Linked DNA regions of Homo sapiens. The protein of the gene in region 1 interacts with the protein of each later gene in a pairwise test. Each region holds a gene or a part of one and is shown in the gene's direction. Other genes may lie near its edges.

The links. Proteins that work in one complex are often made in the same cells at the same time.
Region 2: the proteins of NR2E3 (region 1) and HOXC13 interact in a two-hybrid assay, tested with the Homo sapiens proteins (one large-scale study listed by BioGRID and IntAct).
Region 3: the proteins of NR2E3 (region 1) and DEDD2 interact in a two-hybrid assay, tested with the Homo sapiens proteins (one large-scale study listed by BioGRID and IntAct).

Annotation. Positions count from the first base shown.
Region 1 is NC_000015.10:71,813,554-71,816,939, forward strand, and holds part of NR2E3 (photoreceptor-specific nuclear receptor), read left to right. Parts: coding exon 1-82; intron 83-458; coding exon 459-564; coding exon of another isoform or gene 565-568; exon of another isoform or gene 569-1,376; intron 1,377-3,386. UniProt on the Homo sapiens protein: Orphan nuclear receptor of retinal photoreceptor cells. Transcriptional factor that is an activator of rod development and repressor of cone development.
Region 2 is NC_000012.12:53,941,831-53,944,437, forward strand, and holds part of HOXC13 (homeobox protein Hox-C13), read left to right. Parts: intron 1-2,607. UniProt on the Homo sapiens protein: Transcription factor which plays a role in hair follicle differentiation. Regulates FOXQ1 expression and that of other hair-specific genes.
Region 3 is NC_000019.10:42,211,178-42,214,677, reverse strand, and holds part of DEDD2 (DNA-binding death effector domain-containing protein 2), read left to right. Parts: intron 1-3,500. UniProt on the Homo sapiens protein: May play a critical role in death receptor-induced apoptosis and may target CASP8 and CASP10 to the nucleus. May regulate degradation of intermediate filaments during apoptosis.

The DNA of each region.
Region 1 (3,386 bases):
GAAACTATCTCTCGGTTCCGGGCATTGGCGGTGGACCCCACGGAGTTTGCCTGCATGAAGGCCTTGGTCCTCTTCAAGCCAGGTAACTGAGTCTCTGCCCAAACCTTGAGTGGGAATTCTGGTGACTTCCATCTGCCTCTCACTCTCCCTCCACTACCCCCATGTGTGCAGATGTGTGTAGGCCTCTATCCTGGGGGGTGGGAGGAGAGTGGTGAGGCTGGACTCCCTTCTCCTTGGGGCCACTCCTGGTTGACTGTGAGGGGACAGGGCAGGCTGGGAGCCCCTGGGAGACCCTGAGCCCCAGCCGGAGCCCCTGGTGGCTCCTCTGGGCCTGGCAGAGCCCACCCCACAGGGCCCCAGGTCCATGTCTGCAGCCAGAACCCTGGGCCACCACTTCATGGCCAGCCTTATAACAGCCGTAAACCTGTGCTAAGCTCACTGGTGCTGCTTCTCCCCAGAGACGCGGGGCCTGAAGGATCCTGAGCACGTAGAGGCCTTGCAGGACCAGTCCCAAGTGATGCTGAGCCAGCACAGCAAGGCCCACCACCCCAGCCAGCCCGTGAGGTGACCTGAGCATGCGCCCACCCACTCATCTGTCCCTGACCTCTAACCTTTCTCTGCCTCTCCCACACTCTCCCAGAGCTCACTGATTAGACAGCACAAGGGTCTCAGTTCAACAGCATACAGCCAACATCTATGGTGTCCCAGGCACAGTGCCAGGCCCCGGGAGTGGGGACCAAGATGTACATAAGACAAAGCTACTGCCTTCTAGAGACAACCGGCAGTGACCTCACTGAAGACAAAAACTGCCCTAGCCAGGTACTGAGGGTTGCATGAATCTGCAGGAGACAGAGATCCCCTTGCATGGGAAACATAAAGCAGAATTGGGAGGGACTTTGTGGAGACAGGGCTGGACTTGAAAGGAAGAAGAAGTCTAAAAGAAAACATCATTTGCAAAGGGAGAGAGGGGCAAGCATGATATGTTGTTAGAACAGGAGCCCACTTTGAAGGTATAACAGGTTCCTGCCAGTGAGAAATGGGGAGAATAAGCCAGAAAAGTACCCTAGGACCAGCCCGTTCAGGACTTTGAATGCCAGCCAAAGGCCACGTCTGACTTGGGAGGCAGAGGGCAGCTACTGCAGGTTTCCGAGCAGAGGGTCATACACAGGGCTGGACCTCACGCAGACTGGCATGGCCATGGGTCCAGAGGATACTACTGGGAAGGGGATGGCAGCTACTGCCACCTTCCAGATGGTTCCATGGAGTTCTGATCTTTGGGCATGGCCAGGGGAAGCAGAAGGGAGACTCTAGGAGTTGAAATGGGTCAGACCCGGTGTTTGGGTGAAGGTAAGGAATGAGGGAAGAGGAGCTCTTTGGGAGAAGACATTGTTAAAAATATAAAAAGGAAAGCCAGGAGGAAAGACGGTTTTGAGGGAAGATGATAAGGTGTTTTGTAGGTGCACTGAGCATCCTGTAGAGATGCCAAGCACATGGATGGCCCTGGCTAGGTTTGGGGGAGAGTTGCTGCAGGCTGAGTGTGGCTGCGCGAGGGTGGGGCAGGAGCCGGTGCTCTGGGACTACGCTGTTTGGCCCAGCACAGGCAGATGTCATGGAGCCTCAGCAAGGTTGGAACATTTGGCCTTCAGGCATCTACTGGCTATTTTAGACCATGTTATCTGCAATCTTTGGGGCTCCCGGCAGTTTCTTTCTGAAGAAGCAAGCTAATATGGGCATCCTTGCATCACCTCTAATCCAAGAAATGATTACAAGGAGAAAAGGTAATTTCCTTTTAAGAAAAGCCACAGTATACAAAGTATATGCCATATAGCACAGGAAGATTTGTGCTGCTTATGAGCATAGGGAGAACGCTGCTACTACTAAGACTTGACTTAGCATCTGAAGAGTGGGATTCAGAGACATTCAGAAACCAGCAGCCTTTCTCTGCCAAGTTTCTGTTGGAACCAACTCCCAGAGATGTCCTGGCATATTGGTTATGCGTCAAATTTCAAAATGCTGATTAAGATTTCCTATGTCCCTTTTATAGCGGTTCATTGCCTACTACAAGGGAATTGAGCATGAAGATAGTGGTTTGGGGTTCTCTAATCCAGCATATTATTTCAGTTTTTAAAAACTGCAACACCCAGGAAGAAACACAATTACCATCGCCCCCTGATATGCACACAGACACCAAAGCGAAGTTCCACGAAGTAATTCCTACCCTTAGCTTTTACAATTTACCTGATGTTTCTCTTTTCTTTTTTTGAAAAGGCTGATTGTGACCCCCTGAATTTAATTTCAGACCCACTAGGTGAGGCAATACCTGCAGTTTGGAAAAAACATTCTTTAACTGACTTTATAGTTATTTCTTCTTCCTCCCACTCTAATTTAGATCAGAAAAACAGAAGCAGGGAAGGCAGATGGGAGGGGTATACGACTTGCTCAGTGCTGCTCACTTGGCACTAGCAAGAGAAAGGAAGGCCTTAGGTTGGCAAAGCAAGTCCAGCAGATCACTGAGTGGTGGGGAAGTCTTCCCCGAAATTCACGGTGAGAGGAGCATGGGACTGCCCAATGTGGAGTAGCCTCCTTGATGCTGGGTGTTGACCCTGGCCATCAGACCTACCCAGGGAAGGTTTAGTTCCCCCATCTGTCTCTTGGGGCTTCACCATCCGTCTTTTGTGTTGCGGACTCCTGTCTTAGCAAATACTTTTTTTTTTTTTTTTTTTTTGAGACGGAGTCTCTCTCTGTCACCCAGGCTGGAGCGCAGTGGCGTGATCTCGGTTCACTGCAAGCTCCACCTCCTGGGTTCACGCCATTCTCCTGCCTCAGCCTCCCGAGTAGCTGGGACTACAGGCGCCCACCACCACGCCCGGCTAATTTTTTGTATTTTTAGTAGAGACGGGGTTTCACCGCATTAGCCAGGATGGTCTCGATCTCCTGACCTCGTGTTCCGCCCGCCTCGGCCTCCCAAAGTGCTGGGATTACAGGCGTGAGCCACCACGCTCAGCCAGCAAATAGTTCTTATTTAAAACAATAAATATTTTTTTCAATGACTATCTCAGTCACCAAAATTATCCTTCAACTTCAGGACATTTTCAGTAATGGCTATCATCATCCTAGGTGGTATACAGACAGGAATTTGTATTCTTACAAACAATTCTTATCTACTAAAAACTAATCATATAATTATAATACTTATATATGAGATTAATAATAATATTTTCATATACAGGTGCTCCTTGACTTATGATGGGGTTACATCTGGATAAACCCATTGTTAAGTTGAAGCTACTGTAAGTTGAAGATGAATTTTCATACATAACCCATCTTAAGTCAAGGAGCATACTGAATGCTTATCACTTTCACACCATGATAAAGTCGAACCATCT
Region 2 (2,607 bases), on another chromosome or scaffold:
AAATTATCTTCAGACACTCTCCATCTTTCTACCCACTCAGAGATCTTTTAGAAGTAGTGAGATTTCAAGATAACTCTGTCTGTGCAATTGTGGTTTGTTCGGCAACATGTAGGCATAAACACTGCTGTCTCTCTACAGTGCCTCTGGCTCTGAGAATCCTCATCTGTGGTAGTCTGGGCTGGTGTGGGAGATGGAGGCAATTGTTCAGCAAGATCCAGATAATTAGGGCCAAGATGTGTCGTGGCTTCTTCCTTCTCCCAATTATACAGACTCTTGCTTTATTGCTCTGGTTTTTTTTTTTTTCTCCCTACGGTGAGTGTAGACTTTTTTTTTTTTTTTTTTTTTTTTTTTTTTTTTTTTTGAGAGAGAGAGAGAAGCAGAAATTCCAGGAGAGAATCAGAAAGGGAGAAAAAGAGAGATGGGGTTTAGGAGAGAGAAAGAGGGAGAAAGAAACAGTGGGCTATTTGGACCACACTAGAAGTCTTTACTGACAAGCCTTTGGATTTGGGTTGGGAAGAGTAGCAAGCTGGATTTCTAGCTGGACAAGGCACTCTTCAGAGCCCAGAGCTTGCCTGTGGGGGGGCGGGTGGTCAAGGGTGGGTGGGCTGTGGGGAGCTGAACAGAGGGGCCCCGAAGCCCAAAAAGAAAGCCATGGCTGAGCATTGAGATGATTTTTATTTACTCCTCAAAGGTGTCTATTAGGTTTCCAGGCATGAAGTCATTCGTGTATGTGATCTGGAGGGAGACTAGGGAAGGGGTGATTGTAAGATTAATAACTAAGCCCCCACTCACTTTAGGCAGTGTACGCACATCTCCAGGTCCAAGCTACCAGATGTTTCTTCATCTCTACATACCATTTCCTTTCCAGATAAGGCAGCAGACAAAGAAAGGGGGCTTCTTTGAGAAGGCAAGACTGGAGTTATTTCCCCAGGAGGCCAAACCAACCTGCAGTTGGTCTGATCCAGGACAAATTGGCTAAATCAATCCTTGGCATCCTATAGAGAAAAATAACCAGTTTAAACCAGTTGTCTACTTTTTAAACTGATTTTTTTTAGGGTTGATTAAATCTCATTGGAAATTTAGAGCTAGAATTTAGGAAACCAAAATTGGATAGGTAATTGTGAGAGTTTAAAGAGAGTAAAGTAAAAAATTAGGGACAATTATCTGGCTAATTCAGAAACAAAAACCCACCTTTACCCTACTGTATTCTTCTCCAGGGAAAAGGAGGTGTTTTAAAGCTGGATTGTATTAGCTGGCCTATTTCCATTTTAAAACTTACTGTATCATTTTAAGAGTCAGAAAGTCTGGCTTTAAAATCTGGTTCTGCCACTTAAGTTATTTTACCCACTCTGAGCCTCAGATTCCTAATCTTGTAAAATGAGTTTAACAAAATAATCCTGAAAAAATGTTCTGAGGATTAAAAACAACAATAACAACAACAAAAGCAACAAACTCATGGTATCACTACATATCCTCTTCATTCTATTCTTGTCAACAAATCGTCAATTTCCCAAATCATGGTTACCTCTGTAAGAGTAAAACAAATTTGAGAACTGAGAGATTTAAAGATAATGGTCGTGTTCAAAAACAAATCCTTTTTAACCTAAAGGATCCATACTGTTTAAATAAAGTTATTTTGTTTTTTAGATTTTTTTAAATCATAGTTTATTCTCACAGAGGCAGAGAAAAATGCCAGGTCCAACAGTTTTCCTGAGAAATTGTCACCAGAAGACAGTCAAATGAGGCCATTGGACCCCGTCTCCCATTTTCTTCCTGAGCATTTTGTTTTCCCCTGTGTCTCACTGTGACCACTACTCTTCCCATTGTGTATAGAGTCCATGAGAGAAAGCAGACCCAATGGGGATGGGTACAGGGAAAGTGTTCTGTGAGGGTGGGATGGGAACAAACATTTCAGAAAGAACTTTGTGTCTTCCCTCTGGGCTGTGTCTATAGTTTCAAAATGTGGTAGGAATGAAGGGGAAACCCCAAATATTCAGCCCTCCTCATTAGCTTTCACCTAAAGTCTAATAATTACATGGAAAAAATTGAGGGCTGAGCTATCCAGATAATCTCCCTAGTTCCCCCACTTCCCCTTGAAAGTGTTGCGTGACCTTTATTGACAGGGATGAGGGTGGAGTAGAAAATGGAGTTAGAAGTGATATATATTGGTTTTAGTTTCTGTGAAATTCTCAGAGCCTAAAGAAACAGAACTGGTAATATTGGTTTGGATGACAGGCATCTAGGGTTTAGGGTTATGGTTGGTGCAAGGGATGTAGACAGTTTCCTTCAGCTGTGAAGGAATGGAGAGGGAAGGCGGTTGGAACAGAATTTGTTCTGTTTTGGTGGGACTGCAGTGTGGACCCCCTACTTCCAGAGACACCTGATTCCCTATATCTCAGGTTCAGGACCCCCCACCTTGGGTGTTAGGTGGTTCATAACATTGGACCCCAATTCCTAGAGTGTGGACCTCCAAGCAGGCTGGCTTCACCTGGACACTTATCTTCTATCTGTGCCTCACATCCCTAACGTAGGGCCAGTGTCCAAAGGCGTGAAGACTCATCTGGTGGTCTGGGCCCACTGAAGCTGACCCCCTGCCTGCCATGCCCT
Region 3 (3,500 bases), on another chromosome or scaffold:
TGTCCTTCCACCTCAGCCTCTCAAGTAACTAGAACTACAGGGGTATGCCACCATGCCTGGCTAATTTTTTCATCCTTTATAGAGGTGTGGTCTCCCCCTTGTTGTCCAGGCTGGTCTTGAACTCCTAGCCTCAAGCAGTCCTCCCACCTCAGCCTCCCAAAGTGCTGGATTACAGGCATGAGCCATCATGCCAGCCACCTCTAGTTGTTGTTGTTGTTTTGAGGCAGAATCTCATTCTGTCACTCAGGCTTCGGTGCAGTGGTGCAATCTCGGCTCACTGCAACCTCTGCCACCCAGATTCAAGCAATTCTCCTGCCTCAGCCTCCCAAGTAGCTGGAACTACAGGCGCATGACACCATGCCTGGCTAATTTTTTTGTATTTTTAGTAGAGATGAGGTTTCACCATGTTGCCCAAGCTGGTCTCGAACTCCTGGCCTCAAGAGATCTGCCCACCTGGGCCTCCGAAAGTGTTGGGATTACAGGCTTGAGCCACTGCGCCCTGGCCACCCCTCTTTTTATTATGTGAAATTTCAAACATACAAGTTGAAAGATTAGTACAGTTAACATCTTCCACTTAGGTTCAATAATTGTTAAGATTTTGCTACTTTTGCTTTATGTGTATACGTAATTCTGGATTTTTTTGTTGAACCCTTTGAAAGTAAATTACAGACATCAGGATGCTTTACCCCTAAATTAGGCATCCGTGGAGAATAAGGATATTCTCCTGTACCACTTTAAGACTATTATACCTAAGAAAATAAACACGAATTCTCTGACATTCTAATGGTCCATTTTCAAAAATCCCCAGACTGTGGGACCGTTCAGAATCTATTCATAGTTGAGTTGGTATGCATTCAGTTGTTATGTCTCCTGCTATAGCACAGAAACTGCCCCTACACCCCATACCTTTTTCTTTTTCCTGTAACATTGATTTTTTCACCCTAGCAGGCCGGTTGTTTTGTAGAATGTCCTGATTGTTTCTTTATCTGTCTGTTTTTTTCCTGATGGAGTTATGTAACTCGTCCCTCTTTCCCTTACATTTTTTGTTAAATGGGAATTGTGTCTGAGGCTTGGTTAGATTCAGTTTATACATCTTTAGCAGGAATAATCCTTGGTTGCTGCCATCTAGTTCATATTGGAGTACATCTCCAGGCATGTACGGCCTGGCTTTTCCGATGTGGGAAAGTTTGGTCACTTGGTTAAGGGGATATCTGCCATGTTTGTCCATTGTGAAGGGACATTTAGTTCTCATGGTTAGTAAACAGTCTATGGGGTGATACTTTGGCATATCCTGTTCCCTAATAGCCATTTACTCAGTGGGTTTCACATCTATGAGCTTTGCCTGAACCAGTTATCACATTGGTGTTTGCAAAATGGTGATTTTTCTAATTCTTTTTCTTTTTTCTTTCTCTTTCAAGAGGTATTCCCCCAATGCCCCTTTGAGTTTGAGTGTCACTATAGACCCATACACTATTTACTGACTTGTTACAGTCAGTCAGTCTTCCTGCAGTTCCAACTGGCTAGCCTCTTGTGTCTTCTTCATGTGTTTGTATCATTCTTTGTGTGCTTCCTGCTTTGTGGCACTGCAAGATGTCCTGGGCTGACTTTGAACTTTCCCTTCCGCACCCTAGAATCAGCTGTTTTTCAAGGAAGCTGTGGTATTTAGAGACCAAAACCTGGGTGTTGAGTGTGTATATTGTTCTAGGTTCTTTCAGTGAACAGTGTTAGAGACTTGACTTTTCAAAAAGTTTCTGTTAGTATTTTAAAGATTAATGTTATAGCCATGTTTGGTGGCTCATGCCTGTAATCTTAGTGCTTTGTGTGGCTGAGGCAGGAGGATTGCCTGAGGCCAGGAGTTCGAGATCAGCCTGGGCAATATAGTAAGACCCTGTGTCTAAAAAGATAAAAAACCTAGCCGGGTGCAGTGGCTCACACCTGTAGCCCCAGCAGTTTGGGAGGCTAAGGCGGGTGGACTGCTTCAGCCCAGGCATTTGAGACCAGCCTGGGCAACATGGCAAAACCCTGTCTCTATAAAAAATATAAAAATTAGCCTGGCATGGTGATGTGCACGTGTAGTCCCAGCTATTCAGGAGGCTGAGGTAGGAGGATTGCTTGAGTTGGGAAGGTGGAGGTTGCAGTGAGCTGAGATCATGCCACTGCACTCCAGTCTGGGTGACAGAGCAAGACCCTGTCTCAGAGAAAAAAAAAAAACGAGCCGGGTGTGGTGGCATGCCACTGGACTCCAGCCCGGGCAACAGAACGAGATCCCCACTCTAAACAAAGAAACAAAAACATCACAAATACTTTTTTTTGAGATGGAGTCTCACTCTGTCACCCAGGCTGGAGTACAGTGGCGCCATCTCAGCTCACTGCAACCTCTGCCTCCCAGGTTTAAGTGATCCTCCTGCCTCAGCCTCCTGAGTAGCGGGGACTACAGGTACACACCACCATATCCAGCTGATTTTTGTATTTTTAGTAGGGACGCAGTTTCACCATGTTGGCCAGGCTAGTCTCGAACTCCTGACCTCAGGTGACCTGCTTGCCTTGGCCTCCCAAAGTGCTGGGATTATAGGTGTGAGCCACTGCTCCCAGCCAGACTTTTTAATTAATTAATTTATTATTATTATTATTATTATTATTGAGAAAGAGTTTCACTCTTGTTGCCCAGGCTGGAGTGCAATGGCACAATCTCGGCTCACCGCAACCTCCGCCTCCCGGGTTCAAGCGATTCTCCTGCCTCAGCCTCCTGAGTAGCTGGGATTACAGGCATGTGCCACCACGCCCGACTAATTTTGTATTTTTAGTGGAGACAGGGTTTCTCCATGTTGGTCAGGCTGGTCTCGAACTCCCGACTTGAGGTGATCCGCCCGCCTCGGCCTCCCAGAATGCTGGGATTATAGGTGTTAGCCACTGCACCCAGCCCCAGCCAGACTTTTTTATACTAAAAGTCTTTCCTCTTAATAACATTAAGATGTGGGTTTGTTTGATTTATTTTACAACAGTAATTAAATAGCATCAAAATAACAAAGTCAGTACAACTGCTGACTGTATCTAGTGAATGAAACATAGATTTTATTTGTGTTTCTTGTTCTCTGAGCATATCCCATTGAGATTTTACAGTCAGAATGTTCTTCAAGTTACTTGAATAATTGTTTCATCTGAGTATTCCTGTTACCAATTATGTATACAATCCCCTCCCTCCCTTCCTCCCTCCCTCTCTTCCTCCTTCCCTCCCTCCCTCCCTCCCTCCGTCCCTCTCTCCCTTCCTTCCTTCCTTTTCTTCTCCCTTCTCCCTTTGAGGGTCTAGCTCTGTTTCCCAGGCTGGAGTCCAGTGGCGCAAACACTGCTTACTGCAGCCTAGATCTCCTGGGCTCAAGCAGCCCTCCCACCTCAGCCTCCCAAGTAGCTGGGACTACAGGCACGTGCTACCACACCCGGCTAATTTTTTTACATTTTATTTTAATAGAGACGGGTTTTTCCATGTTGCCCGGGTTCCAGGT